Linked DNA regions of Homo sapiens. The main gene of each other region encodes a partner of the protein of the gene in region 3 in a complex. Each region holds a gene or a part of one and is shown on either strand. Other genes may lie near its edges. A codon is read from its position in the direction of its gene.

What was found.
Region 1: the proteins of C5AR1 (region 3) and GNAO1 are in contact, whole or in part, in a cryo-EM structure (PDB 8JZP), measured with the Homo sapiens proteins. Residues at the interface, in NP_001727.2 of Homo sapiens: Asn71, Phe75, Arg134, Leu137, Val138, Pro141, Ile142, Gln145, Ile225, Thr229, Arg233, Ala234, Thr235, Arg236, Ser237, Lys239, Thr240, Val243, Val244, Ala303, Gln305, Phe307; in NP_066268.1 of Homo sapiens: Ala31 (codon at 5,823), Lys32 (codon at 5,826), Lys193, Asn194, Leu195, Glu318, Tyr320, Phe336, Thr340, Asp341, Ile343, Ile344, Ala345, Asn347, Leu348, Arg349, Gly350, Cys351, Gly352, Leu353, Tyr354.
Region 2: the proteins of C5AR1 (region 3) and GNAI1 are in contact, whole or in part, in a cryo-EM structure (PDB 8HK5), measured with the Homo sapiens proteins. Residues at the interface, in NP_001727.2 of Homo sapiens: Asn71, Arg134, Leu137, Val138, Pro141, Ile142, Cys144, Gln145, Asn146, Phe147, Arg148, Ala150, Thr229, Arg232, Arg233, Ala234, Thr235, Arg236, Ser237, Lys239, Thr240, Val243, Val244, Ala303, Gln305; in NP_002060.4 of Homo sapiens: Arg24 (codon at 3,890), Ala31 (codon at 3,869), Arg32 (codon at 3,866), Glu33 (codon at 3,863), Val34 (codon at 3,860), Lys192, Asp193, Leu194, His195, Lys314, Glu318, Tyr320, Phe336, Thr340, Asp341, Ile343, Ile344, Lys345, Asn347, Leu348, Lys349, Asp350, Cys351, Gly352, Leu353, Phe354.

Annotation. Positions count from the first base shown.
Region 1 is NC_000016.10:56,186,504-56,194,488, forward strand, and holds the start of GNAO1 (guanine nucleotide-binding protein G(o) subunit alpha), read left to right. Parts: upstream 1-4,985; 5' UTR 4,986-5,732; coding exon 5,733-5,850; intron 5,851-6,051; exon of another isoform or gene 6,052-6,070; coding exon 6,071-6,113; exon of another isoform or gene 6,114-7,985. UniProt on the Homo sapiens protein: Guanine nucleotide-binding proteins (G proteins) function as transducers downstream of G protein-coupled receptors (GPCRs) in numerous signaling cascades.
Region 2 is NC_000007.14:80,128,512-80,139,119, reverse strand, and holds the start of GNAI1 (guanine nucleotide-binding protein G(i) subunit alpha-1), read right to left. Parts: upstream 4,290-10,608; 5' UTR 3,960-4,289; coding exon 3,842-3,959; intron 3,337-3,841; exon of another isoform or gene 3,048-3,336; intron 1-3,047. UniProt on the Homo sapiens protein: Guanine nucleotide-binding proteins (G proteins) function as transducers downstream of G protein-coupled receptors (GPCRs) in numerous signaling cascades.
Region 3 is NC_000019.10:47,304,587-47,314,493, forward strand, and holds the start of C5AR1 (C5a anaphylatoxin chemotactic receptor 1), read left to right. Parts: upstream 1-5,274; 5' UTR 5,275-5,309; coding exon 5,310-5,312; intron 5,313-9,907.

The DNA.
Region 1 (7,985 bases), on a different chromosome or scaffold from region 3:
ATGACATCTCTTATCCCTAAAATTATAAATAAGAAAACTAATTTTTCATGAATTCTACAAAATAACAAAATGGGACACAAAATTGAGCAAAAAATTTTCTGACGGGAATGTCAAAAACACCTGGCAAACACTCTTCTCACAAGCTGGCATAGGCCTATAAATCTCCCATTTGTTTGTTTAAAATCTGTATCATTTCATTTTTCAGAGCCTTACTTGAAGACAAGCCATTACCTTTTTGAACTCATCCAATCCTAAGCATTTTCTAGAATAATCAAGTAAAAAAAATTCTACCACAAAAATAAAAAAGTCTCAGAGGTGGGAAGAGCTTTGTCACATTGTCTGATTTAGCCCTTGCTAAATCAGCCCTTGTTTAGTTAACAAATATTGAAACTGATGACTTATGGGCAGTGGGCCATCCTTGACCTTTGGGGATATATACAAAGTAATAAGACAACTCTGTCCCCTAAAAGGAGTTTACAGTTTACTAATGTTTTCCCAAAGTACCTGAGTACTTAGGGAGAAGGTATGAATGTAAAAATGAAGATTCCTAAGCTTAGCCTCAAACTTACTGATTCAGAAATTCTAGGGATTAAACCCAGAAATCTGCTCTTTAAAAAGCATCTTGGGTAATTCTTGTGCACAACATTTGAGAACCACCACTCTGGTAGGTCTGAGAGATGTGCACAAGTATGAGTTAGGGAAATGCTGAATAGAAGACTCATCTTTTAGGGACATAAAAAAATTGATCAGCACCTTCCCTCATTAATGCCAGATACAAACTGGAAAAAAAAGAAAAGTCATCTCTTAGCCAAAACCAGACATTCTTCTAAATCATATTCACCACTAAGTTGGATTGTGAGTTATCAATTTTATAACAGAAACACTTAGTGCAGAAACCCAAAATTTCTAGTGACCTACCATTCTCCCTAAAATGCCTAATTCACTGCGTGCATGGGCTCACACCTGTAATCCCAGCACTTTGGGAAGCCGAGGCTGGCAGATCACTTGAGGTCAGGAGTTGGAGACCAGCCTGGCCAACATGGTGAAACCCTGTCTCTACTAAAAATACAAAAAAAAGTAGCTGGGCATGGGCGCTCACCTGTAATTCCAGCTACTCGCGAGGCTGAGGCATGAGAATCTCTTGAACCTGGGAGGCGGAGGTTCCTGTGAGCCAAGATTGCGCCACTGCACTCCAGCCTGGGCAACAGAGTGAGATTCCGTCTCAAAAATAATAATAATAATAATAATAATAATAATAATAATAATAATAAAATGACTAATTCACTGGATATTTAGTTTCATTTAGGTTATGAACCACATATTTTAGCCTATTTTCTTCCCGTGAGAGTAGTATTCATAAGCAATTTTCATAGTTTTTTTCCCTTTCACAGAAATACAAAAAAACTACTAAACATAAAAAAATGTTGAATTTAGAAACATTTGAGGTATCTGGGCTTTAAGAAAGTAAGCTCTTAACAGAATTAACTGGCACATACAGATTCTGCACAAGACCAAACTCTGTACACAGAAAAATCACCTGGGGAGTGGCTATCAATGCAAATGGCTGAAGAATCTGAGTTGGTAAAAGTAAGATGGATAACTGAATTTTTAACAAGCACCCCAGCTAATTCTAATGTAAATTGTTTTGAGAAAACATTCCAGAATTTTCAAGATTTCAAGATTCCAAGCTCATGACATCCCAACCTGTCTTCATGTCTAAATCAATATATTAAACACAGTAGACTGCCAATGCATACATATTTAAATAATTAAAGTAATTTTATATTTAATTAAAGTATAAAAGGGAACAAACAGGGGAAGTCAGTTTACCTAATCAGAGCCCACATTCTGTAAGTCAGAGCTGGGGAATCTTATTGATATAATGAATTGCCCTCCAGATCCAGGAGCCACATGCAGTAAAGGGCTTTGCCGTTGTTTCTTTTAGAGAGTATATAAAATACTCTGATTACCTACTTATAAAATTAAAAATATACTGAATGATGTATGTGTGTAGCAAAGGGAATGGCTGAGGTTGGAGGGAGAGTTATTCTCTGGACATCAACAATAATCTGAGAAATAAAATTCTGAGGATCATATAAAATAAAACCAAATAGAATCTGTCCTTGGTCTAAGCATCTCCCACTGCTGATGTTAGGATAGTAATTTCCTCATTCCCACAGGAATTAATTGTGAACAATTAAACACGTGGTATTATCTAATTACTAATAATTCACAGAGAACTGAGAGATTCTTATCCTCACGTCCTTTGGGGGAACCTGAATATGAGTGGGTTCTGGGGTTGTATGCTTTCTGTAAGTCTGGGAAGCACACTTTATATGTGCATATAGCATGCAGTTTCTCAGATAGTCCACAAACATGTGAAAGGAGCACTGGCTTACTACTTACAGGTAGTAGTAAGGAGAATAACTGTTCGTGACCCTAAACAGTGGCTCAGCTTCTTCAGCTATAAAATGGGTACTCAGGTTGATCTGTATTCATGGTCCAGGTTCTTTGCACTCAGCCATGATGCTTCCCACGCCATGTGCTTAACTGAGGTTTATGTGGGAGGATCACATGAGACAATTTTTGTAAAAGTGCTCTGTAAGCTGTAAAGCACTATACAGATGAAGCGGATTATTATTAGTCTTTTACGAAGCCCAGCGATAAAGATGCAAAGTGACCCAGAAAAAGAAAACTGAGTAGACAAACCTGAAATACAACATCTATAGCCCCTAGAACAGTTACCCTGTACATGGTAGGTAGGTGCTTAATAAGTAGAGTGAGTAAAGAAAAACGCAAAACAGGTTTGTGCCTCCATCATACTAGGTCTGATACCAAGAAGAAATAAATATACCTAAGGTCAATGATAGTTTCATTCAACCATACAAACCCAAATAATCCAAGAGCCTAAGATTTTAAATTAAAAATTACTTCAAAGAAAGAGCATGGAAACGTGAAATGTGACCCGGAATCCGCAATTAAATCGGTATATTCTTACCTCTTCAGTCTTTCCAACGCAGTCTTGCAGGGATACAGGACCTGGGTGAGGGTGTGGAGTGCTTCCCTGCACCTGGTAGATCTACATAACTGTTCCTAGCAACCTCTTGAGGAAATAATACATTCTATAGAATGTTGGGTACCTAAGCTCTCTGTTTTGGATTTGAAAGGCTGCGTTTTAGTGATTTTTAAGCCAAACAAGATTTATCCCATAACAGCCCCCCAAAAACACGCACAGAAAAGAAGAATGAGAGGGGCGGGTAGGTAGAGAAGCAGTTATTCACTTTATAAAACAATTCTCTATAGGATTCTTTTGTCAGTTTCCTAGACTATGTAAAATGTGATTCAAATTAAAATATTTAAATCACATACCCACATCTTGACATGGGCAGCTATTTGTAAAATGAGGCAAACCCACACTGGGAAATACCAAATTAAAAAAAAATCAGGGAAAAAATATTTTCTTCTGGGTGGCCCTAAACTGCTTTCTTTTTCCCCATTGCAAATGTATTTTTATGCTGGGTTACATTTCCAAAACAGGAGTGTTTTTTTTCTATCGTTGAAATGAAACAAACAAGTTTGCTTTCAGAGCTACAGAAATGCCCAACTGTTAGGAAAAAAAAAACAAAAAACCGTTTTCCACTGGCCGCTTGCCTCTCTTATCCCCATGCAACCTTGCCTATTGGCCCCTTTCCCTAGGAGAGCCCCTGGGGCTGTCTGATGGAACTGATTGTAAAACTATTTTGTGCAGTAAAAAAGTCGTTTCTTCAAAATCTGAGACCACCCAGAACATGCCCAATCTTTGGCAAATATCGACTGGTTTCCTCAGTATTTGACTAGCTGTACACCGAGTAACTGTCCCGGGTTTCTGGGTCTTTATCTGAGAAGAAATGAGGGGGAAATGTTTCAGAAGATGAAAAAAGGAAGAAAACCTCTCATCCAAAATCTGTTCAAAATTCATTTTGTGCGTTTCGAAGGGGGAGGACAGGAGAATTTAGTGCAAAGACGGCCTCCACCAAACGAAACCGTCCAACATTTGCAAAAGCTTTTAAAATAAACTGCTCAGGGATCAGGGGTTTGCTGGAAACTCCCGGTCGCTTGAAGCCCTGTCCCTCCACTCCGGGCACCCTGGCCTCCCCAGGGTGGGCACCCCTCCTGCACGGAGAGCGGCGGCTGGGATCTCGGAGCAGGGTCGGCTATGGCCCTGGAGGCAGCGGCTCACAGAGAAAAAGCTCTGGCTTTTCTCCGCCCGCTGCGTTCCTCTTCTTACAGCCTCGGGTGTCACATATTAGGTGCTCAATAAATGTGGACATAGGAAACGAAAAGTCCGAATCTGTCCTTACGCCCCCAAGGCGAATTCTGGGGCGCGCGGGTTTATTCCGACCCACTACCACATCGCGTTTCCTGAGGTAACCCGGCCTCGGCTCTGCGGCCCCAGCGGCTGGAGAGCCACGGAGAAGGCGGGCTACGGGCGACAAGATGGAGAGCCGGCCCGAGAGGGACAGAGGCCGCGCTGGCAGCGAGCTGGGGGGCCCACCTGACCGTCCTGCGGGCAGCCCGGCCCCGCGCTCCCATTGACAAGGAGGTCCGCGCCGCCGGCGCGTGGGGCGGGGGCGGAGGCGGGGTGGGGCGCCCCGGCGCGCGCCCGGCCCCACTCCCCGCCCCCGCCAGTCCCGCAAGCACCCACCCCGGGGGAGCCGCGGGCCGGGAGGGCGCTGGGGGGAGGGGCAGGCCGCTCCGCGAGCGCGTGTGCGCGCCGCCGCCGGCTGACGCGAACTCCGGCGCGCGCCTCCCCCGCCCCGCGCCCTCCCCGTCCCGGGGGCCCGGCGCGCGGCCCTGCTGACGTCAGCTGGCGGCCCGCGGAGCCGGGTGCGCAGAGCCGCTGGCGCACTCGCGCGCTGCGCTGGCCTCCTCCCCGCCCCGGGCCCAGGCGCGCGCGCGCTTGTTCGCTCTCCCATTTTTTTTTTCCCCTCCCTCCCTGCCTCTCTCTCTCTCCCTCTCCCTCGAGCTCCCGGCTGGCTGCGGCTCCCTGGCGCTCTCCCTCTCTCTCCGGTAGGCTCACCGAGCGATGCGAGCTCTGGGAGACAGCGACGCCGCCTCCCGCTAGAGACCTGCCCCTCGGCCCGGCCCCCTGCCCAACCCTGCCCAGCGCGCGGGGGTCGGCGAAGGCGCCGCGGACGCACCGACGGCTGAAGAGCGGCGATGCACATGCACTAGCAGCACCCCCTAACTCACTCCCTCCACATCCCGCGCCGCCGCCGCCGCCTCCTCCACCTCCTCCTCCGCCGCCGCCGCCTCCTCCTCCTCCGGCAGCCGCGGCAGCAGGACCCACCCTGCCCCCCACCCCACCCTCTGTCGGCTCCGGCTGCGGCTCCAGCCTCGACTATTATTTTATTTATTTTGGGTCGTGCACAAGCCTCAGTGCCTGCAGTCCGCGCCTCCTCGGCCCGCGGGCGCCTCCTCCCTTGGCTCCGGAGCCCCAGACCCCGGCCACCCTCGATTCGACAACCCCAGACCCCTGCCAGCTGCCGCGAGTCTCCGCTGCTGGAATCTTGTTAGCGGCTGTCTTTTTGGAGGGTTCTGGTTTCCCGACATTTTTGTTTCCAGCCCAGGAGAGGATATCGTGATTTTCCCCCCTTGAGCCCAGGCTCTGCTCTCTGGGGGGGTGGGGGGCGCTCCAAGCCGGGGAGCCGTGCCAGCCGAGTCGTGCGGGCTGTGGCAGGGAAGGGGCCACCATGGGATGTACTCTGAGCGCAGAGGAGAGAGCCGCCCTCGAGCGGAGCAAGGCGATTGAGAAAAACCTCAAAGAGGATGGCATCAGCGCCGCCAAAGACGTGAAATTACTCCTGCTCGGTAAGGACCGCCGCTGCTACCCCCATCCCCCGACCCCGGCCACTCCGCACCCCCTGCCACCAGCTCCCCCACCCCACTCGCGCCCGGGAGACCTGGTCCCCAAGTTGGCACCACCATGTGCCCAGGATCGCCCACCCCCTCGCATGCCTTAGTCCCCCCCTCCCCCTGTTCCCTTAAGCTGACACTCACCAGTTTTTCCCCACTGTCTGTGTCCCAACAGGGGCTGGAGAATCAGGAAAAAGCACCATTGTGAAGCAGATGAAGTAAGTCCCTGTGGCATTGGGATTCGTACTTTTATTAAGAATAATTTTTAAATCGTTTTTATTACATTGCTTACTCCACATTGCTCTCCAGGCCTGTTTTTTAATTCGTGCACACACACACACACACACACACACCCCTATATTTGACTCCCCTCCCCCACTCCCTACGTTGGTTCTGGGTCCTCCACCCTAACTCCTGGGTGGGTGTTTTTTGGGAGGGGGAAGGGGAGCGCCTGTAGTTGTATGAATGACAGTGTCCGCCATATTGATCAGAACATCACACTATTGGCATGATTATGATCATTACTCTTGCTTGTGGAATATTTTCTGTGTCTCACTGCCTCCATTTCTGTCTGTGTCTCTGTTTCATTCTGTCTCTATTTCTTTCTCCTCTTCCCTCCATACCTCCCTATCCCCCAAGGTCCGTAATCCCACTTCCCCCTGCTCTTTTCCTGGGGCAGTGATTTTGAACTTGGCTAACATGGAGGGGACCCAGCCCTAGACTGGGGTGGAGGATCAAGTGTCTGCTGTTCATGCGTTTGGTGCTGAATTGGAGGCTGTGGTTTCTACATCCCCTCGCACCCCCTCCCCCGCAAAAAAAGAGGGCCAGGGTTAGGGGAGGGGTCGTGTGCTAGGGGAAGGAGTGGGTTTCCAAACGTAGGTGACGGGCACAGTTTTATCCAAGGTAGAGGTGGAAGGGGGAGGGAAGCTGCCTGTGAGGCTGAATGTCCGCCCCTTGCTGCCCCCAGCTCCTCTCCTCCCCCACCCTCCCAGCATTGCTCTCCTGACACCCGCAGTTTTCGTTCGCTCCGTGGCCTTTATCAGTGTATTTATTTACACTCTGCATAGGCCGTGTTCCATGTAATCTACCCACAATGCGGATTTCAGGCCCCACTTGCCGCCGCCCCCTTCTGCCTTAGCTATCAGTTTCCCCTCCTAATTAACTGGGGGTGGATTTGAGTGATGGTTGAAAATTAAAACAAAATGGGATATTCCTTCCCTTCCACACTTTCTCAATAAGGAGCCTCGCCCCTCCTTTCCACTTGCAGGCTCGCTTCTTGCCCTATCCACTCGGCAGTTCCTGGTGATCCCACAGGCAGGTTTGCTTGGGGAGGGGGTGGCCGGCAGCGAAGGGGTGTGCGCCCTCCGGGCCTCCTGTTTCGGTTGGCCTGTCAGTTCGAGACGGAGGAGTTCGTTTAGACCGTTTAGCGAAGATTCCACGTCGCTTTGCTGTGACACCTTCGTGCACACACAGCTCCTAATTAGGGGTTGCTGTGCAGTAAACAAAAATGATTATTTTTCAACTTGACACAATAGCCGAAATAATTGCATCGCGTAGGGAAACAATGGAAAATAAAAACCCCTTTCGTGGGAAGGTGGGAGTGGGAGACGAAGCATGCTTGCGGTTTCAGAACCAAGATGCAAAAAATCTTGGATGTGTAACAGGCATGACAAGCGGGTTCTAGGCGGCGCCATGATGGTAGGGAGTAGCGACTCGGAGACAATTTTCCCATCTGCTTGACATGTTCTTATTTTTATTCGAGAGCTCCCTGGGGCTTTCTTCGCAGAGCCCCCCTTGGCTCGCCGCACCCTTCTGAGCCAGGGGTAATTTAGCTTGGGGCTTCTCTTGAGCTTGTGCAACCCAAATTGATGGGGAGGCGGGGCCTGGGGAATTGCCCTTTGCAACAAGGTGCATGTTGCATCTGTCTGGAGCCCTTGCAGATCTGTAAATGCAAGCCGCGCCACCCCTTTCTCCCGAGGGGGGACGTTTTAAAACTTCAGAAGTCTGTAATCAGCAGTGGCGGACTCGGAGCCCAGTAGAAGCCCCAGCCACCTGAGCTGGATGAGGTTTCAGGCGTTGCAAGTGGTGGA
Region 2 (10,608 bases), on a different chromosome or scaffold from region 3:
CACACAACCCATACTGAAATACCGGATCCGTTTATTCAAGGAAATGGGCTTTTTGACATCTAAGATCCTAAACCAATTCTAAGAAAGTCAAAGCAATGAAAAATCAAAAGCCCTGCATAGCCAACATTTCTCAACTAGGGGAAGTCACAGGGCAAGTTCAAAAGGAGTGAAGATTAATGATGCAGCATCCCAAAGGGCTGCCTGGTGGCAGCAATAGAAAAATATCCACCAAACAGAAGAAATCCAATCCCTCAGCTCATTTTCCCCCAAACCTGGAATATTTAAACCAAGCTGAAGAAGGAGACAAGGGTGTGGAATTTTGTATATGAGGGGGAGTGGAGCGGAAGGAAGGACAGTGAGGTGGAATAAATGAGAATACTGCTCAAAGCTTTGGAACAGAAAATAAATTCATGATCATTTATTTGTATGTCAAATCTTATGTCCTCCAAATACATAATAAAATAATATTTCATAAGTACAAGTAGTATACTATAGTTACCTACCGAAATAAAGCATAAGCTTAATCTTACTGCCCTTAAAAGGATGATAAATTAAAACATTCTCAAAGATATAACAATAAAAAATAATTTCCTCAACAATTAGACATTATTATATAAAAAACTTTCATTATTACTTACTTCTTTAAAATGTTTCTCTATTAAGTATTATCATCCTAATAAGCATAAAAACTAAACCTAAAAGACAAACAACCCAAACTCTGGCCTGATTTCCTTAGTGTCAATGATTAGACTAGCTCCTCTTTTTTTAAGGCCTAATTCACTGCTCAGTATAGTGAAATACCTCTGATTTAAATCATATAGACAGTGCCAAAATCTTTACTAATAGTGTGCAAGTCTCATATCTAAATTACTCAGCCCAGCTGTTTAAAATGACAATACATTCCTTAAGAAAAAAATGCAATATATTTAACAGACTGTCTTAAAAGTACTTTAGAGATTTTATGCCTTAAATTTAAAAAACATCATGTGATGAGAAAAACAGAATAAGTGAAGATGAACACGATCTAATGTAAATGGCTGTGACACTGGTTATACGTTACCTAGAAACGATTTTACATTTCTAGTTTATTCTACTGCCGTGTTTTACATGGAATTATTTCATTTAGCTGCTTACACATATGCTTTAAGGATTCAAAAAAGAACCAAAAGGTCACAATTTACTACTAAAGTCAAATTAGGAAAACAATGTTTTCGAACATTCCAAGAATTGAATTTCTGGAATAAGTAAGCCAGAATTCTGTTTACAGGACTAGGGTGATGGAACTCTGGGCAAAAGGGTAGACTAGAACGGGGATAAGACAGAGGAGAGTGCTGGGCCAGCAGGGACAGCCAGGATTTCCAGAGAGGAGAGAGGTAGGGAAAAGCAAAAGACCAAAGCTAGAAAAGACAGCCAAAAGAATTCAGTCACTTAAAGATTTCTAAAAATCATTCTGAAATATTTCCAATGGTACCAGTACTGGTTTAGAGAAATAAGAATTCTGGCCGGGCAAGGTGGCTCACGCCTGTAATCCCAGAACTTCGGGAGGCTGAGGCGGGCGGATCACCTGAGGTCAGGAATTGGAGACCAGCGTGGCCAACATGGTGAAACCCGGTCTCTACTAAAAATACAAAATTAGCCGAGCATGGTGGCACGCACCTGTAGTCCCGGGTACTCGGGAGGCTGAGGCTGGAGAATCGCTTGAACCCAGGAGGTGAAGGTTGCAGTGAGCCGAGATCGGGCCACTGCACTCCAGCCTGGGCGACTGCGCAAGACTCCGTCTCAAAAAAAAAAAAAAAAAAAAAGAAAAGAAAAGAAAAAAAAAAAAAGAAAAAAGAAAAAGAAATAAGAATTCCATAATTTCTTCTGAAAATGAGGCCTCTGCTACATCTTTCTCTGAACTCACTTATGATGACTGTCAAGATTCAACTTCTGGTTCTGTATTATACATTCAGTTATATTTAAGTCTTAATCTAGAACAGTGGTCCTTAACTAACGCTGTATTTTGCCCCCAGAGGACTTCTAGCAATATGTGGAAACACTTTTGGAGCTCACAGGTTAGGGGGCTGCTACTAGCATCCAATGAGCGGAGGCCAAAGATGCTGCTGAACATCCTACAATGCACAAAAACAACCTGGAGAACAAAGAATTACCCAGCCCCAAATGCCAACCGTGCTAAGATCAAGACACACTGATCTCTTCTGAACATAAGCAAAAGCCTACTCCTGGGACCTTTATTCTAGTCCATCCCTAACAGTCACCTAATTAAAGGACAAAACACCACCACCAGATGATTCATTTTTCAATTGCTTTAAACATGGTGGATGGCTGGCTCAAACTAAGAGTCACACAGAAATACACTGAAACAACGTATCACACCAGGAGAGCAAAAACTGCAAGAAAAAAACTTCTTAATCCTCTTATTTCATATCTATCTCACATTCAATTCACAAGAGAAGTACATACACTAACCTCATCAAAACACAGTATTTCTTATTAATGTAAAAACTTAGGCAAACAACATTAACTGAGAAAGATTTATGTTGGGGGCGACAGGGTGAAAAAAGCCACCCAGGTCTTTAAAATGCAAAGTTATTTCACAGTTTACTTGCAAAATGACTCAGATCATTATTACTTTTAGTCATGCCAACTTTGCTGCTCCCAAGCCTACTAGTAATGGAGAAAAAAAACCCACCATTTTTTCTGCAGTCATTAAACCAATGAAACAGAAGCTTACTGAAAACAGGTTTGTGCAACATTTCTTTTTTATTATAACTGGTATAAAAATACAAGCAGTCCTTGGAAATGCAAATGAAGATTCTGAGAAATTTTTCATCTATCTAAATACCTAGAGTGTGAGAAGAAAACATGCAAACAAAAGAAAACCCTAACTCACGAATCTTAACCTGTAAAGATTTTCCTAATGCTTCCCTCAGTGAAAACCCTGGTTTACTCTTTATTTTCTTCCCCGTCAAACATTTGGAAAAGACCTCCACGTAGCGTTTCACGAACAGAACAGTGCTAAGAACAAATAAAAGCCTTGCGTGTACCTGGCAAATCTCATTCATCAGAAACGGTGGCAGCGGAGACAGAACCCTGTTGTCTGGCGTGACCCTCTCGCTCTTTCACAGCAGTTTTCACCACTCGAGTATCTGCCTTGCCTACTACTAAAGCAAAGCTTCCCAACCCCACTTGGGTGGCTTCCATGCCCCCACAGCAAGAAAAATCAAGCATCCAGCGCAGCCTTTTCTCAGCGCAGGGGGAATGTAATCAGCGCTCCTTGACCACTTAAGGAGTCGCCATAGGAAGTTAACAGGAAAGACGCTTCAGCCCCATCTCAGAGGCCCCACAAAAGGTGCACTGATTTCACCAAACGTGGCACTCTGGGCATGAGAAAACCACAGTCGAAACACAACCTACACCGCACACGAAGAAGGGTTTTCCGGGAGGGGGTTGGTGGCGCGGGGGGGGGGGTGTTTTCATTTTCTAGCCGCGAATGCCCCTTCATCTTTACAAGGCTGAGCTAAACTTCAAAGCAAAGGGTTTCCACGCGACCCGCCGCCTCGGACTCGCGCCTGGGCTCTTTGCTGGGTCGCACGAAAGCATCCGAGTGAAGTGACGCGCCCGCCCCGCCGCGGGGAGTCCTCGCCCGCCGGGGCGGAGAGAGACCAGACACCGGGAGAGGGGGACCCGCCTTGCCTCCGCACCGCCGGACCCAGCTCCCGCTCAGAAGCCTCCTCGGGCGCTTCCTCCCCCTTCCCTCCGGGTTTCCAAACGCCGAGGGCCGCGCAGCGCCGCACCCGGTCCCCCGCCGACCCCCGGGCCCCGACCCGGCCGCCCTTACCGAGCAGCAGCAGCTTGACCTCGCGCGCCGCCTTCTCGCCGTCCTCACGGAGGTTGCGGTCGATCATCTTACTCCGCTCCACCGCCGCCTTGTCCTCGGCGCTCAGCGTGCAGCCCATGGTGCCGAAAGCGAGAGCCTGCCGCCGCTCCCTCCGCGCCCGAGTGCGGGCTCCAAGCACAGGGGAATCCTTTCTCTCTCCTAGCGGGCGTTCGAACGCCTCCCGACGGGGGCCACGCCGCCCCCACCACTTCCTAAGCGGAGTCGAGGGAGACGCTGTCCGCAAAGGGGCAGACAGCAACGGGCGGCTGTTCCTCACGACCAGGCTCTGCTTCCCGGCCCGGCTCAGCGCCCCCAAGTCCCGGGTTTGGGGTTTTGAATCTCTGGGTACAGTGGCCGCTGCACTCCCGCCGGTGGCCGCGCCGCAGCCTCGCCAAGCCCAGCCGAGCTCGGCCTCCGCGCGCCGCCGCGGCCCCGCCCCTGCCCGCCCCTCCCACCACCCCGCGACCACTCCCAGAGCGCGCGCCCGCGCACGTGCCCTCGGACAGCGCCCCCCGGCCCCGGACCCCGGCGCCGCGCCACCACTGAGGGCCTGGCGCCCCCTGGCAGCGTCCCCGGGGCGCGCCACTGCCCCGCGGGGCTGTGGCCTTCTGCCCTGGGCGGGAGTGGGGTAATTTCTTTCCGTTTACTCACACGGAGGGAGCTGTGCGTACCTGCCCCTTCGGGTGGGGGTGGGAGAGCTGCCAAAGTTGCCGAAAAAAGCCAGTTCTGGGCGTTTGAGCATGCCCAGCGCCGGCAGCCACGCAAGGTTTTTCAAAATGCAAATCCCTGTCGGCTGGTTTCAGGGCCGTGAGAAACAGGGAACTGGGGAAGGAATGGAGCCTGGTGAAACCAGAGATGGGCACAGTGGAGAACAGGAAAGTCGGGGGAGGGGACTAGAAAAGGGCACCAAGGTCACTTTCTTCCTACCTTTTGCTTCTCTTTCCTTCTTCCTATCCCTCCCTCTTTCCTTGCACTCTCACGTTTTTCACAAGAACGCATTTTGAAGGATTTCCTCGTAACCTAAAAAAAATGGAAGACAAATAATCAAAAGTATTTTTAAATGACAAGAGCAATAAAACACACCCACACAAGCCAATCTCCACATCGTAGCAGATCTCCTCTAGAGCAGCACATAAGCTTCCATGCCAAATTTGGAGCCAATATTTATGACCGTGTTTGTAACTCCTGTACCATTGGGCATGCCATTTTTACAGGCCTTAGCTTCTTTGCCCATAAAATGAGGAGTGGATCTATGGTGCTATCTCCCCATCCTTCCAGCTGTAACAATCGGCGGAGATAAGTTCCTGTGGCCCGCGGGAGGCATTGCTACTCAGCACCCAATGAATGAGCAGAGGCTTAAGATCTCATCTCTCCCTGTCAGTTGCACTACACCTTTCCCCTACAGATATCACAGGAAGCGTTAACTGATTAGAAAATGGGGCTGGTAGCAAGGAAAAACATGGTCCTTGATGTACTAAAAATTGGAACATGCTCCCTGGTTTTCATCTGGAAATCTTATTCTCTAAAAATCATTTGGGAAAACTGGGCTTGAGTTTTCCAAGGTGAGGCTGAACTGATGATACAAGCAGAATAGCTTTCGAGTAGGTCACTGAGACCACGCTTGTGAGCTAGCAGAGACTGAGTTGCCTCCTTATGGGACATGTCCTTTCCTGTTCTCCTATGGGAGTCACACCACCTGCTGGGCTGATGAGATGCAATTTCAAGATCTGCCTCAACTATAATCTTTTGTAATATAACAACAAAAAGGAACAATCTTTAAATGTACTTAGTCACCTTCTACACTGTAATTCTAGGCACTCTAAATGCTAATGTGTATCAGAACTCTGGAATTAAACTTAAGGAAATCAAATTTCAACACACTGTGTATTAGCCATTCTTAATTATCTTTTATGGTGAGTCTTTCCTATTAAGTTCGGACCAGAGTGTGGAACCAACAGTTTCAGCAAAAGAAGAAGCAGTGCTGGCTGAATATTGGTAGAAATGACTACAAAACTTGTGTTTCGGAGAAATGAAGTATGTGTAACAGAAGTTTGTCAAATAGGTAACATTACTTCCATCCTTTGAAGTTAGTCAAATAGGTGAGTTAAAATGTGATACATAAACGAATAAGAACAGCAAATTAGATTTATATGTAGCACAATTCCTAAGAGAATGCAGAGTAATGAACTGATCAGTATGGGGGGAAATTCTAAGATAAGAAAGTTTTGAAAAAACGTTTGAAGGAAATGATAACAGGATATTGGTGGGGAGTTTAAAGAAGTATGTATTAGTTCAGGCTGCCCTAAAAATACCATAGCCTGAGTGGCTGAAACAATAGGAATATATTTCTCACCGTTCTGGAAGCTGGTAAACCTAAGATTAAGGTGCCAGTTTATTCAGTTCCTCAGTGAGGGTTCTGCTGCTGCCTTGCAGATGGCCTCTTTCTTGCTGCGTCCTCACATGGCAGAGCAAGAGAGAGAGAGCTTGAAAGCAGTCTGGTCTCTCCTCTTCTTATAAAGGCCCTGTCTTAAAGGCCCCACTCTCAAGACCTCATCCAAATCTAATTACCTCCCAAAGGTTCCATCTCCAAATACCATCGTATTGTGGGTTAGGGCTTTGGAGACATTCAGGCCATAATAGGGTATATTTTGTTTGAGGGGAATAACCAGCTAAACAGTTAATATGCAAGATACGTGAAAGAGAAAACAATGGTTTTATAACTGAAAGTTGTTTGGTTGTGAAGAATGATAGGATGTGTGGGACAAAGTTGGTGTGAAGAATGATGGGATGTATGGGACAAAGTTGGAAGACAGCTTTAAATGCTAAGGTGAAGGGTTGGACTTGATACAGTGGGTACAAAGTGCTCCTTACATTCTTTCCTGAGTTGGGTACTAGATGTTAAAAAGCAAAGAAATAAAAAAACCCTCTTACCACTACATGTAAAACAAATGGGTACCAGCAAGTGAATTGTGTTAGTAATCCAAATGTGAGGTGGTGAGAGTCACTCAAGCTAATAACTTATGTAATTATGATGTTGCAAAATATGATTCAACCTTGTCAAGGAGATGAAGCAGATATTATTTATTTATCTCTTTTATACAGAGTGAAATTGAAATTATAGAGGTTAAAGCACTCTACTTCAGAATACTGTTTTTTCTTTTCAACATCATGTTTGTTTTTTAACAGCTTTTTTTTTTTTTTCCCTCGGGTTCAAGCTTTTTTGAGATATAAGTCATATGCCATAGAATTTGCCTATTTAAAGTGTACACTTCAGTGGCTTTCAGTATATTCACAGAGTTGTGCAACCATGATTACAATCAATTGTAGAATATTTTCATCACCACAAAAAGAAGCTCTGCATTCCTTAGCCATCATCTCCAATCCTTTATCTTTCCCCAGATCTAGACAACCGCTAATCTAATTTCTGTCTCTTTAGATTTGCCTATTCTGACATTTTATATAAAAGGAATCATATAGTGTACAGTATTTTGTGACTGGCTGCCTTCAGTTAGCATAAAGTTTTCAGGGTTCATCCATGTAGCATCCACCAGTACTTTATTTCTTCTTATTTCTGAATAATACTGAACATTATATGTTAAGAGAGTTAGAGACATATGTTAAAAGACAAATTAGAACACATTCAGCTGAGAGCCTCAGGTTTTCAAAGTAGCTACAAACTATGTCATAAGGAATAATTGAAGAAATTGGGGGATATTTAATGTAGGAATGAGAAGATATGACTGAAGAGATGTCATAAATCAAAAGGAATAGACTTTTTTAGCTGGCTTCAAGGTGGTGTTGAAACCTGTAGCAAACAAAATTTTGCCTTGCTATGTTGTGAATGGGAGACTTACCATATGGAATTAAGAAGTAAACATGGAGAATGCAGAAGCTGAATAAGGAGACTTTTTCAAGAATCTTAACCATGGAGAGGGGTTGACACATGGGATGGTAGTTGGAGAGGTAGGTTTGGAATTTGTTTCATTTCACTTGTAACTCTTCTCAAATATTATTCAACTGAGAAAAAAGGATTGCTATTGATATGGTTTCACTGTGATCCCAACTAAATCTCAGGTTAAATTGTAATAATCCCCACATGTCAAGGGTGGGACCAGGTGGAGATAATTGAATCATGAGGTCAAATTCCCCCATACTGTTCTCCTGGTAGTGAATAAGTCTCATGAGAGCCAATGGTTTTATAAGTAGGAGTTTTCCTGCATAAGCTTTCTTGCCTGCTGCCATGTAAGACGTGACTTTGCTCCTCCTTTGCCTTCCACCATGATTGTGAGGCCTCCCTAGCCATGCTGAACTGTGAGTCAATTAAACCTCTTTCCTTTATAAATTGCCCAGTCTTGGGTATGTCTTTATTAGCAGCATAAGAACAGACTGATACAGTTATGGGACAAAGGAAAAAATATGGCCACCCTACTTTCTGACCACCACTTCAGACCTTTTCATCTCACCCTCTGTTACGTTATTACCATCAATTCTCCAGTCCCACAGAGACCTTCCATCTACCGACCACATGCCTTTTCTCTTTCTGTCGTGTGCTGCATGTGCTAATGTCTCTCCTTATGCAACTTATATCCCATCTTCCATCAGGACAATTATTCCTTTGCAATATCCTCAAAACACTCCCACCATTGTATTCAACAGGAAAAACTTCAAATCTGGTTAAATCTACTCTGCCTCTGTATGACTATACCTGTTCAGCTGAGCTTGAACAGAGGAAAACACGGTAATCAACAACTCCACATTTCTGTTTGCTCAGGCCAAATACTTGGAGTCATCCTAGATTCTTTCCTTTCCTGCAAGCCTTAGTTATTCAATCTGTTAGGAAATCCTACTAACTTTGTCTTCAAATATAACCAGAACTTGGCCAAATATCGCCATCTTTACTGATAGACACTGGAGATATTTATCAAATATTAAATAACCTGCTTTCTGCTCCCTCTACTTTTACCTTAATCGCTTACTGTTCCCACCTAGCAGCCAGATGCATCCTTTTAAAATGTCAGGGAGAACTATCCATTCACTTTCCATCTCACTTAGAGGAAAATCTCATCTAAAATCCTTATGATGGCATACAAGGACTTACCCTTTTTTTTAACCATGTGCCTCCCCATAGTATTTTCTGCCATTCTCCTTGTTGTCTGGTTCAGCCTCCCTGACCTCCAGACTGTTTGAACTTGCCAAACACACTCCATCATTGGCCTTGGCATTTATGCTCCCCCTGCCTGGAACACTCTTGAGCCAGGTATCTGCTTGACTCACTCCCTTATTTCATCCAAATCTCTGTTCAAATGTAATCTTATCAGAGAGATATCTTTCCTAACTACTCAACAACCACTCTTTATTCCCTTATTACACACTATAATTTCTTTATATCTCTTATCACATAGCATATATATATTTGTGATTATGTGTTTATTACCTGTCTTCCCTCCCTTGAATATAAATTCAAAAGAGCAGAGACTTTGTCTTTCTTGCTTACTGTTTTATGTCCAAGACCTAGAACAGTAAAACCCGCAGTAATTGAATAAAGAGGAGCCTCTGGATCTAAAGTATAAATCTAGCTTTCTAAATCCATTAATTCATTTATTCAACAATATTAACTGAAGACCTATTATAAGCCAGGTGGTGTTCTTAGCACTGGGAATAAGGTGATGAATAAGACAGATTACATTGACGAGGAGATGGTGGCAGTGGTAGGAGGGAGATATTAAATAAATACATAAGTGGATCAATTTAATTGGATAAAATAAAAATAGTTATAAATGCTATGAAAGTAATGAAGCAGTGTTTTACAAGAGAGTGCACCAGTTCAGGTCTTCTGAGAAGCAGACGTCAAGACAGAATTAGACAAACAAGAGATTGGGAGAAGATTCTGTGAAGGATAAGAGAGAGTAGGAGCAGGAGTAGCTGGGGAGCACTTCAAATGTGATGCAGCTCTGACACCTGGACAAGGAGAGAAGGAAAGAGGGAGTTTGGGACAGGTTATGGTGCAGCTTGAAGAAAGTCTTGGCCAACCTGATGAGATCTCTGTCCCACAACCCAGTCCTGAGTAGATATTGTTCATTAGGGAAGTCCCGTACTGGGCGGAAGTGGTGAAGTGGGCTGGGTCTAGTACCCCTATCTTACTCAGTCACAGGCTCAGGGCAGCCTTGGAAGAGAGAGCCTCAGGCCTAAGTGAGAACACTGCAATAGATCTAAAGATGGGGCAGTTGGAGGCTATCAGCCAACTATGCTCCCTTAAAGGGTCATCTGAATGGTGCACCTTCGTGGCCACAACAAGGAGTTACTCTGAGGGAAAGATAGGTACTTTCAACTGAACATTCATGAAGATTACTCTAATGAGGTGACAACGTTTGAGCAGAGAACCAGATGGCTAGAAGGAACCATGTTTGGAGGAAGAAGATTCCAGTGCCTTTCAATGTTGAATACAAGGGCAACAGCCCTAGGGTGGAATGGAAGTTGACTTGATCAAGGAACTCAAAGGTTAGTTTGACTGAAGTGGAGATGAGAGAGGTAGGAGATCAGGGAGGCGAGGGCTGCAAGGTAGGCAGGAACCAGATCCTATAGAGCTGTGCAGGCCATTCAGGTGGAGGGAATTTTTTCTACTTTGGAATTTGTAAACCTCAGTTTCTTCTTCAACACTGGAGATATTAGAAGTGTTGTGTTAAGTAAGGTAACTCATAACACAGTTCCAGGCACATCATGTGCTCATA
Region 3 (9,907 bases):
GCCTCTGTCTTTTTTTTTTTTTTTTTTTCGAGACAGGGTCTTGCTCTTTTGTCCAGGTTGCAGTGCAGTGGCACAATCATAGGTCACTGCAGCCTCGACCTCCTGGGCTCAGGTGATCCTCCTGCCTCTGCCTCCTAAGTAGCTAGGACTATAGGTGTGCTCCACCACACCTGGATAATTTTTTGTGTTTTGTAGAGATGGGGGTTTCACTATGTTACTTAGGCTGGTCTGGAACTCCTGGACTCCAGTGATCTTCCCACCATGGCCTCCCAAAATGCTAGGATTACAGGCATGAGCCATTGCTTCTGGCCCCAATTGCTTTCTTTTTCTTTCTTTCTTTTTTTTTTTTTTTGAGGCAGAGTCTCACTTTGTCGCCCAGGCTGGAGTGCAGTGGTATGATCTCGGTTCACTGCAACCTCTTCCTCCTGAGTTCAAGTGATTCTCCTGCCTCAGCCTCCCAAGTAGCTGGGACTACAGGTGCCTGCCACCATTCCCAGCTACTTTTTTGTATTTTTATTAAAGACGGGGTTTCACAATGTTGGTCAGCCTGGTCTCGAACTCTTTACCTCAAGTGATCTTCCCTCCTCGGCTTCCCAAAGTGCTGGGATTACAGGCGGGAGCCAACGCACCCGGCCGCTTTTACTATTCTTGCAACTTTTTTCATTTGACATTCCATCGAAATAAAAAGTTAAAAAAATTCTTTTTCTTCTGAGGGGGTGTTTTATCAAGGACACCTTTATCAAGGGTCCCGGGCCTAAAAATGTTAAGAACCCATGATTTACGGCTGAGGAGGCAACTTCCATCCAAAATCCTAAAAGTCAAGTTCCTGTGACCTGGCTTCCTGAACCTCCCCGCTCCTGCGCCCCCTGGAGGTCAGGGCTAGAACAACACGGCATTCCTATAATGCTCCAAATCGCCACAAATCGACCTTGGAAATCCTGGGTGAGTAACGCAGACTGCGCACATGGCTTCAATTAGCGGAACTAAAACTTGCTGAACATCGTGTACCCGCGTGTCCATGGCCAAACACAAACTCCACCTTTGTAAAAGTCTAGGTGAATTCCCAGCTGAATTCAGAAGCGTGACAGGAATGGGACTTTTCATTGGTGTCTTTTTCTTTTTTCTATTTTTAGAGTGGGGAGGAGTGTATTTCTGGATTGTTTAAATATTTACAATGAGCATGCATTTCCTTTGCAATTAAAAGAAAACCAGATTTTTTTTTTTTTTTTTTTGAGGCAGAATGTTGCTCTGTCCCCAGGCTGGAGTGCAGTGGCGCGATCTCGGCTCACTGCAACCTCTGCCTCCCGTGTTCAAGCAATTCTCCTGCCTCAGCCTCCTGAGTAGCTGGGACTACAAGTGCCCGCCACCACGCCCAGCTAATTTTTGTATTTTTAGTAGAGACGGGGTTTCACCATGTTAGCCAGGATAGTCTCAATCTCTTGAACTGGTGATCTGCCTGCCTCGGCTTCCCAAAGTGCTGGGATTACAGGCATGAGGACCGCACCCGGCCGAAAACCAGATTTTTAAAAATTGAAGTTTGCTGTAGAAAAATACTGTGGGAGAAAGTTGTGGGTGGTGTTTTGTAGAGTCGCAGAAGGACATGGGAAAAAAAAATTGAGTGTGTTTCTGTAATCATCATAACAATCACACTCATTGTGCCGTAGGCTCCAAGGGAGGGCTCTGAGCTGTGGTTACCAGATAAAATACAAGATTCTCAGGTAAAATGTGAAAAAAAAAATATTTTTGTGATCTTAACTCACTGCAGTCTTGATCTCCTGGGCTGAAGTGATCCTCCTGCCTCAGCCTCCCAGGTAGCTGGGACCACAGGCACGTGCCACCATGCCCAGCTAATTTTTAATTTATTTTGTTGAGATGGGATCTCACTATGTTGCCCAGGCTGCTCTCAAACTCCTGGCCTCAAGCGATCTTTCCTCGGTGTCCCCATGCCCTGGGATTACAGGTATGAAGCACCAGGCCCAACCCTGAAATTTAAAGTTAACTGGGCAGTCTGTAATGTGTTTTTGTTTGTGTAGGTGTGTGTGCTAAATCAGGCAACCCCCTATTCTGAGCAGAGGAGTGCTTTGATCTGACTTAGATTTTAATAGGCTCCCTCTGGTTGCTGGTGGAGATGAGACTACGGAGGGGGGGCAGTGAAGATCCCAGAGAGGAGGCTGCTGTAATGGTCCAAGCAGAAGGTGATAGTGATTTGGATCAGGGTAACAGAGCCGAGGTGGTGAGAGGTTGACAGGTCATGCATCTATTTCGAAGGAAAGGCCATGTCCAGGCTCCTTAGCTCGGCATTCAAGGCTTCTCTCCACCACTGGACACACTTACTCTCTAGCTTCTCAGACCCTGTTGCAGATAGAATCATGATCCCCAATGATGTCCACATCTTAATCCCCTGAACCTGTGAACAGGTGACCTTCCATGGCAAAAGGGACTTTGCAGATAGGATGAAGTTAAAGATCTTTAGATGGGGGAGCGATTATCCTGGATTGGGTCTGGGTGGGCTCAGTGGAATCACAAGAGTCCTTATATGAGGAAGATAGAAATTTGAGACATACGGTAGAGGAGGAGGTGATGAGACCACAGAGGCAGGGACGGGCGTGGTGCAACCACAAGCCAAGGAATTTCAGGAGCCACCTGAAGGTGGGAGAGGCAAGGAACAGATTCTCCCCTGGAACCTCTGGAGGGAGTGGTGACATCTTGATTTTGGACTTCTGGCCTGCAGAACCATGCCAAAATAATTGTCTGGCTTTTTTTTTCTTTTTTTTTCCTTGAGGTGGAGTCTTGCTTTGTCGCCCAGGCTGGAGTGCAGTGGTGCCATCTTGGCTCACTGCAACCTCCACCTCCCGGGTTCAAGTAATTCTTGTGCCTCAGCCTCCCGAGTAGCTGGGACTACAGGCATGCACCACCACACCCAGGTAATTTATGTATTTTTAGTAGAGATGGGGTTTTGCCATGTTGGCCAGGCTGGTCTTGAACTCTTGACCTCAATGATCTGCCCGCCTCAGCCTCCCAAAGTGCTGGGATTGCAGGCATGAGCCACTGCGCCCGGTCCTGGTGTTAAGCCCGCAGTTTGTGCTAATTGGTTACAGCAGCCTCGGGAAGGTAATCTAGGCTCCTTCCTTGCCCCAGGCTCTAGGAAGTATCTTAGCCCCCAGCCCTGGGCTGCAGACCTGTACCAGTCCATGGCCTGCTAGGAACCATGCAGCATCGCAGGAGGTGAGTGGCAGGTGAGTAAGTGAAGCTTCATCTGTATTTATAGCCACGCCCCTTCGCTCATATTACCGCCTGATCTGTCAGATCAGGGGCGGAATTACATTCTCATAAGAGCGTGAACCCAGGCCGGGCGCAGTGGCTCAAGCCTGTAATCCCAGCATTTTGGGAGGCTGAGGCGGGTGGATCACGAGGTCAGGAGTTCGAGATCAGCCTGGCCAAGATGGTGAAACCACGTCTCTACTAAAAATACAAAAATTAGCCGGGTGCAGTGGTAGGCACCTGTAGTCCCAGCTACTCGGGAGGCTGAGGCAGGAGAATCGCTTGAACCTGGGAGGCGGAGGTTGCAGTGTGCCGAGATCGTGCCACTGCACTCTAGCCTGGGTGAGAGAGTGAGACTCCATCTCAAAAAAAAAAAAAAAAAAAAAAAGAGCATGAACCCTGTTGTGAACAGCGCATGTGAGGGATCTGGGTTGCAAGCTCCTTATGAGAATCTAATGCCTGATGATCTGTCACTGTATCCCATCACCCCCAGATAGGACCATCTCGTTACAGGAAAACAAGCTCAGGGATTCCACTGATTCTACATTATGTTGAATTGTATAATTATTTCATTATATATTACAATGTAACAATAATAGATGGAGATGGTTGTGGCTTGTGTAGTTGGGGGACAGGGTAGCTCCATTTTCTATTGCCAACTTTATAACCCTAGAAGGATGATTTTTTTCTTTTCTTTTCTTTTTCTTTTCTTTTTTTTTTTTTTGAGATTGAGTCTTGGTGTTGTCAGCCTGGGCTGGAGTGCAATGGTGCAATCTCTGCTCACTGCAACCTCCGCCTCCTGGGTTCCAGCAATTCTCCTGCCTCAGCCTTCTGAGTAGCTGAGATTACAGGCACCCACCACCACGCCTGGCTAATTTTTGTATTTTTAGTAGAGATGGGGTTTCACCATATTGGCCAGGCTGGTGACGATGGTTTTTTTTTTTTGAGACAGAGTCTTGCTTTGTTGCCCAGGCTGGAGTGCAGTGGCGCAATCTTGGCTCACTGCAACCTCTGCCTCCCAGGTTTAAGCAATTCTCCTGCCTCAGCTTCCCAAGTAGCTGGGATTACAGGCACCTGCCACCACACCTGGGTAATTTTTGTATTTTTAGTAGAGACAGGGTTTCACCATGTTGGCCAGACTCGTCTTGAACTCCTGACCTCAAGTGATTCATTTGCCTCAGCCTCCCAAAGTGCTGGGATTATAGGTGTGAGCCATTGCACCTGGCCCTAGAAGGAAGATTTAACAGTAAAATATACTTAAATGCTGGGCTACCTCCGCAGACTAGCTCAGCCTCTTTGGGTCTCAAATCAGCCTGGCCGGGAGGCTGAGTGGAGGTTACAGTCTCTGCTTTCTTGAATCCCAAGGGAGGGGTTTAAGCCAACTGCATTCCTGAGCTTTTGCCCAGAAGGCTGGCGTCTTAGGAGGAAAGAGATAGATGGCTCCAGGCCGGGCGCAGTGGCTCACACTTGTAATTCTAGCACTTTGGGAGGTTGAGGTGGGTGATTGCCTGAGCTCAGGAGTTTGAGTCCAGCCTGGCCAACATGGCGAAACCCCGTCTTTACTAAAAATACAAAAAATTAGCCGGGGGTGGTGACACACACGTGTAATCCCAGCTACTCGGGAGGCTGAGGCAGGAGAAGTGCTTGAACCCAGGAGGCAGAGGTTACAGAGAGCCGAGATTGCACCACTCCACTGCAGCCTGGGCGACACAGCAAGACTCTATCAAAAAAAAAAAAAAAAAAATGAGAGAGAAGAGATGGCCCCAAATAGGGAAACCAAGGCCAGGAGAGGGGCCGAGCCTGCACAGGAGCTTCCTCGGTTTTCCGAGCGCCGGCCCCCCTTCTCTGCCTGGGAGGAGGTGGTTAGAGTCCCCTGGGTGTGTGCCCCGCAGAGGGAGCTCTGGCCTCAGTGCCCAGTGTGCAGACCAATGAGAGCCCCAGAGAGAAAGACGGTCATTTCCTCCCTGCATCTTCCCTTGGGGCTTTAAAAACCACAGCCCTTGGGCAGGAGGGACCTTCGATCCTCGGGGAGCCCAGGAGACCAGAACATGGTGAGTCTCGAAGGGGAATGGGAGCAGGAAACTTTGTCCTGGGTCCCTCCCATCTTTGCTCCAGTGGGTCCTTCTCTCTCCCCAACTCTCGCCGTCAACTCTGTCTGTCTCTCCCTTTCCTTCTCTCTCCCTGTCTTCCACCTCCCACCTTCCCTCTCTCCTGCATCCCAGGCTCTCACACTCCAGGGCTGGGATGTGGCCATGGGAATAAGATTGTCAAGATTGTGGGAGCAACAGCAACCTCGTGGGGCTGGGGCCCGAGAAGATTCCCCAGGGGAGGGGACCCTTGAGTTGGGTCTAGTAAGGTGACTAAGAATTCCACAAGCAGCCGAGCGCAGTGGGTCACACCTGTGATCCCAGCACATTGGGGATTGTGCCAAGGCGGGAGGATTGCTTGAGGCCAGGAGTTCAAGACCAGCCTGGCCAACATAGTGAGACCCTGTCTGTATTTTTTTTTTTATTTAAAGAATTCCACAAGTGAAGAAATCTAGAACAGGCCTTCCAGGCAGTGGGAATGGCAGAGAAAATGTTGGGAGGCTGGAAAGAACCAGTTTGGAGGAATGGTCAAGTTACTCAGATGCTCTTGCAGATAGATGTTCTTTTCTTTTTCGACTTGGGGTCTTGCACTGTTGCCCAGGCTGGAGTGCAGTGGCACCATCATAGCTCACTGCAGTCTTGAACTCTTGGGCTCAAGTGATCCTCCCTCTTTAGCCTCCTGAGTATCTGGGACCACAGGCATGCACCACTATGTCCGGCTAATTTTTAAAATTTTTATTCTTGTAGAGATGGGTTCTTGCTATGTTGTCAGGGCTGGTCTCAAATTCCTGGCCTCAAGCCATCCTCCCACCTTGGTCTCCCAAAGCTCTGGGATTACTGGCATGAGGCCATTATGCCTGGTCGTTTGAGATGTTCTGCATGACAGAGATGGGGAAACTGAGGCCCAGGCAGGAGCAGAGATGGATGGGGACCCTCCATGGTTGGTGGCAGAAGCAGGTTATGCCATGGATTCTGTGAGTGTCAGAAGGAATGCACCCCAGGCTAAATGAGGGTCCCTGTCATCCCTGCGTCTGGAGGCCTGGGCACTGAGCCAGCAGAGCTGCGATTCAGCACCTGCTGTAACACAGGCATTGCCTTGCTTCATCTGTGTCAAAGAGGAAACGGAAGATGGTTTGGATGGACCAGGGAGGGGTCTGATGTTGCTTCATTCCTGCATTCCACCCTTGAGATCCGACTTGGGCAAACGGGACTCTCTGATTCTTCTTCTTCTTTTTTTTTTTCTTTCCAAAACATTTTCCAAAGTACCAAATGATACTTGGTAAAAACTCATTCTCGGCCAGGCGCGGTGGCTCATGCGTGTAATCCCAGCACTTTGGGAGACTGAGGCGGGCGGATCACAAGGTCAGGAGATTGAGACCATCCTGGCCAACATGGTGAAACTCCGTCTCTACCAAAACTACAAAAATTAGCTGGGCATATAAGCGGGCGCCTGTAGTCCCAGCACTTGAGAGGCTGAGGCACGACAATCGCTTGAACCCATGAGGCAGAGGTTGCAGTGAGCCGAGATTGCTCTACTGCACTCCAGCCTGGCAACAGGGCCATCTCAAAAAACAAACATAGAAAAAAAAAAACTCATTCTCCCTGCCTACCCCAGAGCCTCTGACTCCTTTTCTTTCCTTTTATTTTGAGACAGAGTTTCACTCTTGTCGCCCAGGCTGGAGTGCAATGGCACGATCTTGGCTCACCACAACCTCTGCCTCGCGGCTTCAAGCAATTCTCCTGCCTCAGCCTCCCGACTAGGTGGGATTACAGGCATGCGCCACCACGCCTGGCTAATTTTTTGTCTTTTTAGTAGAGACGGAGTTTCACCATGTTGGCCAGGCTGGTCTTGAACTCCTGACCTCACGTGATCCACCCACATTGGTCTCCCAAAGTGCTGGGATTACAGGTATGAGCCACCCTACCTGGCCCTCTGACTCCTTTTCATTGCCTCCTACCCTACCTGGGGCAACCATGGGATGCCAGTTTGTGGTGGATCCTTCCAGAAACAGTTTACAGATGCCTGAGAGCACAGATGCTTAGGGAACAAAGTAAGGACTAGTGTGATGCGGGGAACCCCAAAACCGAGCTCAGCTTCTGTCTCTACTATGAAATAGTTGCGGAGATCTGTCCTCTCCGTGCTTCTGTCTCCTTATCTTTTTGTTTTTTGAGACAGTGTCTTGCTCTGTTGCCCAGGCTAGAGTGCAGTGGTGTGATCTCAGCTCACTGTAACCTCCACCTCCTGGGTTCAAGTGATTCTCCTGCCTCAGCCTCCCAGGTAGCTGGGACTACAGGTGCCTGCCACCATGCCTGGCTAATTTTTGTATTTTTAGTAGAGACGGGGTTTCACCGTGTTGGCCAGGCTGGTCTTGAACTCCTGGCCCCAAGCAATCTTCCCGCCTTGGCCTCCCAAAGTGCTGGGATTACAGGCGTGAGCCATCGCACCCAGCCTCCTTCTCCTTATCTTTAAGGTGAAGATAATACTAGAATCTACATCATAGGCTAGTTGAGAGAATTGACTGAGTGAATGCATGAAAAGTTCTTGTAGCAGTGCCTGGTATACAGTTGGCGCTCAATGTGGGTGACATTTCTATCCTTTCCCAGCCTTATAAATGGCAGTATGTTTTGTACAGTACTCTACATCTGGCTTTTTTAAATGAATAACATATAGTATTATTAACTAGCATTTATTGAGTGCTTACTGCATACCAGGCGTTGTATTAGGCATTCATTAATTTCCCCTTAACCTTGAGGAAGGTACTTCATTCCCGTGTAGTTCAAGGGAGTTGCCTCCTCCTCCTCCTCCTTTTTTTCTTTTTTCTAGACAGGGTCTACTGAGGTCTTCCACCTCAGCCTCCTGAGTAGGTGGGACTACAGGTGCATGCCACCACACCCAGCTAGATTTAAAATTTTTTGTAGAGGTGGGGTCTTGCTATGTTGCCCAGCCTGGTGCTTCTTTCTTTCTTTTATCAGCTGAGTAATATGCTAGTAGGAGGTTTCATCCCCTTCAATGGAAATTTAGTTTGCTTCTAATATTTGGTCTGTTTTGTTTTGTTTTGAGACAGAGTCTCGCTCTGTCACCCAGCCTGGAGGGCAGTGGTGCAGTCTTGGCTCACTGCACCTCTGCCTCCTGGATTCTGGTGATTCTCCTGCCTCGGCCTCCCAAGTAGCTGGTATCACAGGTGCGTGCCACCACACACGGCTAATTTTTGTATTTTATTTTAGTAGAGACGGGATTTCACCATGTTGGCCAGGCTGGTCTCGAACTCCTGACCTCGTGATCCACCCGCCTCAGCCTCCCAAAGTGCTGGGATTATAGGCGTGAGCCACCGCGCCTGGCGTCCAGCCACATTCTTTAACTCAGCATCTGCAGACCTTCCAGTCCTATCTTGGCCGCCTGCCAGCCATGCTGACCTTTCGTTTCTGCTGTGCACCACCTGCCCTTCCTCTCTCCTTTCTGCCTAGAATGCATGCCCCCCCACTCCCAATGCACTTTAGGCCTGCCTGGTAGCCACTCAAACAGAGGGCTCTGGGCTGGGCGCGGTGGCTCATGCCTGTAATCCCAGCACTTTGGGAGGCTGAGGTGGGTGGATCACGAGGTCAGGAGATCAAGACTATCCTGGCTAACACGGTGAAACCCTGTCTCTACTAAAAATAAAATTAGCCAGGCATGGTGGCGGGCACCTGTAGTCCCAGCTACTCGGGAGGCTGAGGCTAGCAAATGGTGTGAATCCAGGAGGCGGAGCTTGCAGTGAGCTGAGATCGCGCCACTGCACTCCAGCCTGGGGACAGAGCGAGATTCCGTCTCATAAAAAAAAAAAAGAGAGAGAGGGCTCTGGGGCTCAGCTCTCAGGAGTTTCTCTCCTGTCTCTGTTCTTGCTAACCGAGAAGACTTGGAGAGGTCTGTTCATTTCTCTGTAGCCTCATTTTTCTCTTCTGGAAAATGAGTGTTGCTGTTGCAACAAGTAAGTCTCCTAGGGTTGCTTTGTGGGTTCAATGAGATAATACACGAGAAAGGCTCAGGACAGCCTGGCAATGATTATGGCTGTTCTTGTAGGTACTGCGCCTTCTCCTTCACCCTGTTCTCATCCGATCGTTCACATCTTGCGGCCAGCACCCTTGTCTAAGCCACCGTCATGCCTCACGTCACCTGGACAGTTCCAATCTCCGTTTCCTCCCAGCTTCTGCTCTCTGCCCCTTTCTCCATGCAACAGACAAGGGTTGTTCCTCTAATGAGCATGTGAATTTAGGAAGAATAATAGTACCCTGCCCTTTGTGCTATTGTCACATAGATATGCACTGTGATTAGGAAATTACTAAGCCAACACCTGGGAAGCACATGGAATAGTGCCGGGCAATTAGAACCCCCAGAGTGGCCCTGGACCTGCACTGCCCAATATGTGGGCCACGTGCCACAATGCAGCTACCTACGTTTATTTTTCACTATTTTATTTTATTTTACTTTATTTATTTTATTTTTGAGATGGAGTTTTGCTCTTGTTGCCCAGGCTGGAGTATAGTGAAGCGATCTCGGCTCACTGTAGCCTCCACCTCCCGGG